2 linked regions of the Homo sapiens genome follow. The protein of the gene in region 1 interacts with the protein of each later gene in a pairwise test. Each region holds a gene or a part of one and is shown on either strand. Other genes may lie near its edges.

Region 1 (3,816 bases):
CTCTCTCTCTCTCTATATATATATATACACTTTGCCTTAAAATATATATTATGGTTATGGCATTATGTGTTGTAAAGAGGGAGAGAATGCTTGAATTATTGTGGCTAGATAGGGGCAGGTAGACAAGCACAGGCCCAACTGGAAGGATGACTTGATGGTAGTTGAGCACTTTGCAAGGTACCTCCAGTGAGATGCCAGACCCTAGTAACAAGCTCACCTGGAGGGGAGTTTGTTTGTGGTGCAGGTTTAATGTCAAGGACCAGTTCTTGGAAACAGAAGGTATGTGGGGTGCCAGTTGAAGATCAGGGGACAGAAATGTTTTTAAAACCACCAAGTATAAATCACATAAGATCGATAGACAGTCGTGATCAGCCATCTACATACAGATGAGGATGTTTGTCAGTTTGAAAATGGATCGATTGTTGAATTTTTCTTTGTTTCTCCCCAGTTAAGATATGCAAGTTTAGCATTCTGTAAGTGTTGGATCAGAATTTCTGATGCCCTTGGCACTCACTACTCAGTGTCAGTTTAGACATTGGCTCCTAATTTTTTTTCTTTTTCTTTTTTAAGATACAGTGTTTCACTGCTGCTGGAGTGCAGTGGCTCTATCATAGCTTACTATGGCTTCGAACTCCTGGGCTCAAGTGATCCTTGAGTAGGGCTATAGCTAGGACTATAGGTTCACGCCACCATGCCTGGCTAATGTTTTTTTTTTTATTTTTATAGAGACAGGGTTTCACTTTGTGGCTCAGGCTGGTCTCTAACTTCTGGCTTGAAGCAATCCCCCCGCTTCAGCCTCCCAAAATGTTGGGATTATAGGTTATGAGCCACCTTGCCCGGCCCTGTTTTGTTTTTATAATATCATTAAAATACCTCATCAGTTTCAAATAACCATTTTGCAGGGTGGTAGGGGATTTTTCTGAGATGGTGTTGAGTCACAGTGTTATTTGAGGTTCTAGTAAGTATCAAAGTGTGTCTTGTGTTAAATGATTCTATTTGAGCTTAAAATGTAATTTCATTTCAGTTACTTGTTTATTGACTCAGAATGCATTTGTTGAGATCTAGACCAGGTTCTTTGTTAATGGAATGTTCTACTCTGTTCTGATGTTTTTGGAATCTTGTATAGAGAACAGTGTCTACCACCAAACTCCTAAGGCTGGATGGTGGTAAGTTCAACTCTTTGCTACCTTCTGAAATTTGAGAAATAGTAAAATTGGAGCACCTTCAGGCTGTGTTAGACTTTAAGGCTTCTAAATTATATTAGAATGTAAGGATACATCTTTGTTTTGACCCTGGAAAGAGTAGTAAAGATTTTCATAAAGGCCAACTAGTCATAAAAACTTACTTAAATTGACATGATCCTAACTCACAATTATGAAAAGCTTTCTGTTGAAATAATTGTGTAGAAAGTGATCTTTATACATGAACAAAGGTGGGATGTTTTAGAAATAATTGAAGATTCTAAGATCCCAGGAAATATAATGGTTTAATTTATTTTTAAGGGATTTAAGATTCCCCATAGCCTATGAAAGAGGGGTCTCTATTAAAAATAACGCCATTGTTCTAGATGTAGCTAATTAGGGATTTGCAATTATCTAGGCAAGGCTAGGATAAAGTTTGGCTGCCTATTCTGTATGAAAAGGTTTTACTGTAAATATCAAGTTTAAATAGATCTTAAGAGGAATATTTACCTAATTAAAAGAACAAACCACTTTTAAGCACCTTGGGAAAATCAATTTACTTAAAAGCAGTGTAAAAATGCAGAATGCATTCACTGATGCTGGTCTGCTGGTGGTCTTTTCATAGAGATACAGGAGCCCCTGGAAAGTCAGTGCTCTCTGTGGATTGCCATGAAATAAATATTGATTGACTCAATGCTATTATGTGAACTACAAACAGTTTACCAGCAATGGGTAGAACTATATTATTTGCTTGCAAAATACATCACAACAATAAACACAATATCTGCCTCCCCCACCCCACTCCACTCTACCAATAGACTCCAACTATGCCTATTTATTGGTTTTGGAGTTTTTCTATTGACATTTGTTTTGCTACTTGTTAACTTCTTTTGTCATGTGTAAGCATTTGATGGCAGATTGGGGACAGCAGGTGTTAAAGGTTTAAGAGCATCATTATTGCTTTTAGCTTCATTTCTTCTGCCTTTGTGTTTGGGCAAGATTGTGGAGAGTCCTGAGTTTAGTATTTAGATAAGGTAATTACATGTCCTTCTCCTCTACTTTTACTAAAGCAAGATCCTCCTGGGCAGCTTAGTTCCAGGTACTGTATGAACTTGCCAGTAATAAGAGTAAGTTTCTTTTAAAAGATTTCTGGATATTTTACGTTTTATACTCAGTCACTCAGATGCGAGGTTTTCTAGTATGTGTCTACTTAGGGGTCAGATTTGACCAGTTTTTAACAGTACAAGTTGTACATATAGGATACTTAATGTATTTCTAGGATATTATGCTTCATTTTCTCTTAGTATTTTAAAGGTTTTAAAAAACCCATTCTATACCTTCTATATCTTTTATTGTTTAAGTCATTCAATGGGAAAGAAAATAATAAAAGTCTTTAGATGCTGTTTCTGATTTTTCGATCATGGTTTTTTTAATCTCAAGAAAAATAATTCTGATTAAGAAATAGAGGTAAACATTATTCTGAAGTAGTGAATTAGAGAATACTTAAATATATTGAGCTGGAATCCTTGTGTATTGCATGTTGGGAATGTTAAATGATAAAGCTACTGTGGAAAACAGTTCTGTAGTTCATAAATATTTACACATAGAATTACTATATGATTCAGCAATTCCATTCCTATTCCTATACGCAAAAGAAAGCAGGGACTCAGGTACTTAAAAGCCAGTGTTTATAGCAGCATTATTGACAATACCTAAAAGGTAGAAACAACCCATGCCCATCAACAGATGAATGGATAAACAAAATATGGTATTATATATTGGAATATTTTGGTACAGTGGAATATTATTCAGCCATAAAAAAGAAGGCAGTTCTAATACATGCCATAACATGAATGAATCTTGAAAACATTATGCTAAGTGAAATAAGCCGGACACAAGAAGATAAATATTGTATATATCCACTTGCATGAGATGACTAGGATAGGTAAATTCATAGAGACAAAAAGTAGAATAGAGATTACCAGGGCTTGGGGGAAGGGAAGATGGAGAGATAGTGTTTCATGGGTTTAGAATTTCTGTTTGGGATGATAAAAAATTTCTGGAAATGAACAGTGGCGATGGTTGTACAACATTATGAATGTATGTAATGCCACTAAGTTGAATGCAGAAAATGGTAAATTTTTTGTTATGTATATTTTATGACAATTAAAAAATGCAAAAGTAAATATTGAAGATGTATCCTACACAGTCTCCATATGCCTCTTTACTCCCCCTTGGTCTGCTTCAGGCAGGTATATAGTTATTTTTTCTTCATCTGGCTGTTGCAGTGTAAATGGAGATTTCCCTAGGCCATTTTTTGGAGATCAGAGAGTTTCCTTATTTTATTAACTGACTTAAATTTAAGAGGAAAATGTTTAAAAGTAGATCTCTGGAGGGGAAAAAAGGGCATTTTAATATTGAGATGAATCAGGGAGTTTGTTAATATTGGCAGACCATGTAAGCACATGAAGATAATCTATCCTGAATAGCACAGCGAGTCATTTAGAAATCCAGTAGTAGGTGTACACTCGGACCTGTCACATTTTCTAACCTTTAAACATTGTTTTTTGTTTCTTTTTTTTGAGATAGAATTTCGCTCTTATTGTCCAGGGTGGAGTGCAATGGCGCGATCTCG
Region 2 (4,613 bases), on another chromosome or scaffold:
CTGGGACTACAAGCACGTGCCACCATGCCTGCCTAATTTTTAACTTGTTTGTAGAGATGAGAATCTCATTATGTTGCCCAAGCTGGTCTTGAACTCCTGGTCTCAAAGGATCCTCCTGCCTCAGACTCCCAAAGTGTTAGAATTACAGACGTGAGCCACGACACCCAGCTTCCCTCTCCAATTTAAAAGCTCCTTGAGAATAGAGGTGTGTCGTTATTCATCAATGAATCCTCAGCAACAGAAACAGTGCCTGACACTTAAGAGAGGCACTATAAATACAGATGGACTGACTGACCAACTGGGGTTAATGTGTAGGTAATAATAGGAGAATCTGTTCCAGCTCCAAGAGTTGGGGGATAGTGCCTCCACTTTACTGACCTCGGGATAAGTCTGTCCCTGCTGCTGGATATTCCCTCATTTGTTCGCAGACATTTATTGCGGGCCTTCTTTATACCTGCCCTATGCGGTGTATTACTGATACAACATGAACAATATGGAAAAAATGCTTTTCCTAAAGGACTTAAAACCCTGTGGGAGCGACAACAAGGAAACAGACAATTATAAGACAATATGATAAATGCTATAGGTCCACAGCAGAATCACCTAACCTATGACGTGGGTGGGATTAAGGAAGGCATTCCCTGATATGGGGATTACCAGGCACTCTCAGCTCAGGTGGAAACCGTTATGGTAAGGTCCGCTCTCAGAGGTGGTAGGGCCCAGAAATGACATCATCCTAAGTGTAAGTATGCAGACAGCACACAGAGGGGCTTGGTAACTGAAGCTGGGCCCAGAGGATGGGGTCCTGACCGATTGGGAAGCTGTCAAAGCCATCATTCCCAGCTCATAACCTGGGACCCATGACTACCCAGAAAGGCATAACCAGGATGAAGAAACACAGGTCTCTCCAGCTTACTGGAGAGACTGACTGGGGAAGCTCCTCACAGCTGAGGCCAGAAACCTTTTAAACAGAAGTTTCCTCTGAGTGGACCTGAACAAGCCAGTTCCCTCTTCCTTAGGACGGCCCTTCACAAATCTAAGCATTTTCCTCTTAGCTTAATCCCTCCTTGTCTCAGGTCTCCCCCAGGCCCACATCCGAAAGTAGATGACAATAATTACTTGTTGAATGAACGAATCATGAGGAGTCATGTAAATAGAATTCTGTCACGTTGTGAGCCCACATTCACCTTACGGGTATATTGGAGGGCGGGAAAACGGAGATGGGGGGCTCCACTAATGTGTGTCTGTGATCCTGGTTAGATCGCTGTAGGCCATAGAAAGTTTCATTTTAAAAAAATTCCTTTCACAGATCAGAAGTGATGTCCCCGTCCCCGTCTTCTCTTCTGAGTTTGTGCAACGTCAAAACTACAAGTCCCATAAGGCCGGCGGCCGGGAGTCACCATCTTGACATACCTTAGCGCGCATGTCGGCGGGAGAGCGAGCGTTTGGGGAGAAGAAGCCCCGCCTGACTGCAGCCCATTGGTCAAAGGGGTCGGCAGCGGGCTCAGCGGTTGGCCACAGCGCCCGCCCGTCCGCCGCGTCGGTCGGGGTCAGAGTGCGCGGAGGTGAGTCGGTGTGTTGTGGACTCGTGGTGCTGGCTGCCGCTGTTCAGGCGGCCGGGAACGGGCGGTGGGGAGCGGGCGGAGCTGGCCCTGCCTCTGCCTGGCCGGCGCCGCAGTCGGCGCGGGCCGCGCCCGCCGCCGCCAACTGCCCTGAGCGCTTGCTGAGGCCGAGGGAGACGTCGGGGCCTGCACCTGGAGGGAGCCTGCCGCGCTGGCCCCGAGGAGGGGGCGTTGCCATGGCGACAGCCTCTCCCGCTGCTGACGGGGGGCGGGGGCGGCCCTGGGAAGGAGGGCTGGTCTCCTGGCCCCCCGCCCCTCCCCTTACTCTCCCCTGGACTTGGATGGGCCCGAGTTGGGGGCAACACCCCGGGGTGGGTGATGCTGAATGGCCCCGCCAAGATTGGGCCCTGGTTAATGCATGCGGGGTGAGGGTCGCGGTGCGCAGAATTTATGCAACCTGGGGTGCTGGCCCATGTGCTTACCCTGGATGCTTACTTAATCTACTGAGTAATGTTCTGGCGGAGGGGGAGCGGGGCAGAGCTTTGCAAGACAGGATGGGTGAGTTTATTAAGGGGGTTGACTTACTGGGATTACTAGAGAAGAAAAAGGTTTGACTAGAGAGGCTAGAAATGGAGCATGGAGATTGTGGGTAGAACATTCCCTTGACCCTCTCGCCAACACATGCCCACACACCAGGTTAGCAGTTTACCTCTTTGTAAATCTGAAGCGGTGGTAGTAGTGATGGTGGAAGGAGTGAATAAGGGCCTAACCTGGCTAGCTTTCTGTTTGCCTGTCTTGCAAATGGTCCAGCAACAGGTGTTTTCTTAAAAAAAGCATGAACTTGGATTGAGGCTTGACTGCGAGTTCTTGCAAAATATAACTGCTCCTTGTTGACTTGGAAGATGCTGGATGTGGGGCCCCTCAATGGGGGTTTGGATTTTGTCCTTAGAGCTGGATTTTGCAACAAATAGTGCCCATCGTTGTGTCTGCGAGAGGTCTCTGGCCACTTCAATGGCATTTACTCTTGTCAGACATTTAATCAGTCTCCCAGCGGAAGGGCAGCAAAACATGAATCCTATTGGCTAAAAGAGTGTACGCTATTCAAACTATAGTAGGTTGTGAGTGGCTAAATGAGTTTTGATTGTAGAGTTTCTTCCAGAAATTGGCTTCATCAAATTCTGCTTTATTCTGACTTTATCATATACAGCATGCCTTGTTTTAGTGGGTTCTTGCTTGGAGCTTAGTTTATTATACCTGAATCTCCTACCATTTAAAAGCCAATTTATAAACAGGGACTTGGAGTGTGACTCCACTAATGTGTGTCTGTGATCCTGGTTAGAAACCCACTTGGCTGCCTTTTCCTCAGGAGGTGGGGGTTGGGGGAAGGGAGCTGCCGGGAAGTGATTGATAAGGTTTCCTTTATAGATTCTGTGGTGCTTCACTGGAGCTCAGAGCACTTTGGCAACTTAAGCACTCCAAATTAAAAGCTCATTAACAATTCCTGCCCAAAGATCCTGTAAATAATCAGCTAGCTAGGTCATAGAGCTTGGCTAAGAGCTTTTCTTCCAACTTGAAATTTCCAAATAAAAGTGCTTTTATTCCCTTTCATTTTAAAAAGTGTTTTCTTTGTGGTGGGGTAAATTGGTGAGTGGCCTTTTCCCAGGGGATCTGAGTAGAAGAAAGTCTTAAATGTGTGGAATGGTAGACAGGAATATATTAGTTCCAACCCTAGGTGTTTCTTTATGCAAAAGACATCACTAACAGGGGCATCTCTGCAACTTCTGGTCCTTTGGAGGATATGAATTAGTTGAAAAGGATGATAGGTATCTATTGATGTTTTGACTTGGGATTTAGTTACCTTGACTTTCTTAGAGCTTGAAGCAGGCTTGGAACTATCCTGAAAGTGTTTCCTAGTCTATGTGGCCATTTTCAGTATGGCTTGTGGATTTGTGGCAACCAACCCCTACCCCAGTCCTGGCCCAGCCTTAGTTCCTTAGTTCTGAATATTGTCAGCCTTACCAGTGTCTTCCTCCTTGACTAGACTAGGATTCTGAAACTACCCAGAGGCACCACTTCATAGCTATCTTTCTCGGTAAATGTTTAGTGTTTCTAGGAGGTGAGCCTCCTTAGGAGCAAAAGTATATGACTAGAGAACATGAAAATCATTACAAATGTAGTACTAATAGTTTCTGAAAGCTCTGTGGGGGCACTGTCTTTGCACATAGATAGCAGTTATCCCGAAGTTTGAGTTTAGAGTTTGAGGTGTAGTATCCTTCATGGGGATTTGATCCTTGGTATTGAAATAGACTTGTTGCAGAGATGTGTATTTATCCACAGCATTGGGGCTTTCCAGCTCTCACAGAACCTTCAGCATCCCCAGCTGCCGGTCTTGGCATCTTCGAAGTAAGGAGAGGTGAGAATCCTGTTGCATGGTCAAGTCTGGCTTTATTTTCTTCTGAGTATTTGGGCTTGGAGGGTAGGGGGTGGGGGCTGATGCAGATTGTATTTTTTTTCCCATGTATCCCCAAAGTCTAAACGAATCATATTTTTTTGTAGCTTCTTCTGATAAAGTAACATATGCTCAAAGTCTGTAGAAACTTACTTAAAGTTTCTAAAGTGGTAAGAGTTGGAGGTGGGAGATCCAGACTGTCAAGTTCTGTCACAACTGCTTTATGGGCATCTCATGAGCACCTACTTTAGGTTCAGGATGGTTGAATAGAACCAGAATAGCCCATTATCCTGAGAAATACACATCTTAAGAAAATAGGAAGAAACATCTTCATTTGGCTTTAAACATTTATCTATCTATCTATCTATCTATCTATCTATCTATCTATCTATCTATCTATCTATCTATGAGACCTTGCTAGGTTGCCCATGCTGGGCTCGAACTCCTGGGTTCAAGTGATCTCCTGCCCACAAGTAGCTGGAGCTACAGGCATGTGCCACTACACCTGGCTCTCGTTTGGCTTTTGCTAATGTATTTGACCAAGGCCTTTGGGATCTTGGTTTAATTTAGGTTGCATGTCACCTTTTGGTGGGTGGTTAGTT

Evidence for each region.
Region 2: the proteins of FNDC3B (region 1) and ERI3 interact in a two-hybrid assay, tested with the Homo sapiens proteins (one large-scale study listed by BioGRID).

What each region holds. Positions count from the first base shown.
Region 1 is NC_000003.12:172,045,782-172,049,597, forward strand, and holds part of FNDC3B (fibronectin type III domain-containing protein 3B), read left to right. Parts: intron 1-3,816. UniProt on the Homo sapiens protein: May be a positive regulator of adipogenesis.
Region 2 is NC_000001.11:44,352,212-44,356,824, reverse strand, and holds the start of ERI3 (ERI1 exoribonuclease 3), read left to right. Parts: upstream 1-1,567; 5' UTR 1,568-1,798; coding exon 1,799-1,933; coding exon of another isoform or gene 1,934-1,987; exon of another isoform or gene 1,988-2,072; coding exon of another isoform or gene 2,073-2,120; intron 2,121-3,899; coding exon 3,900-3,975; intron 3,976-4,613.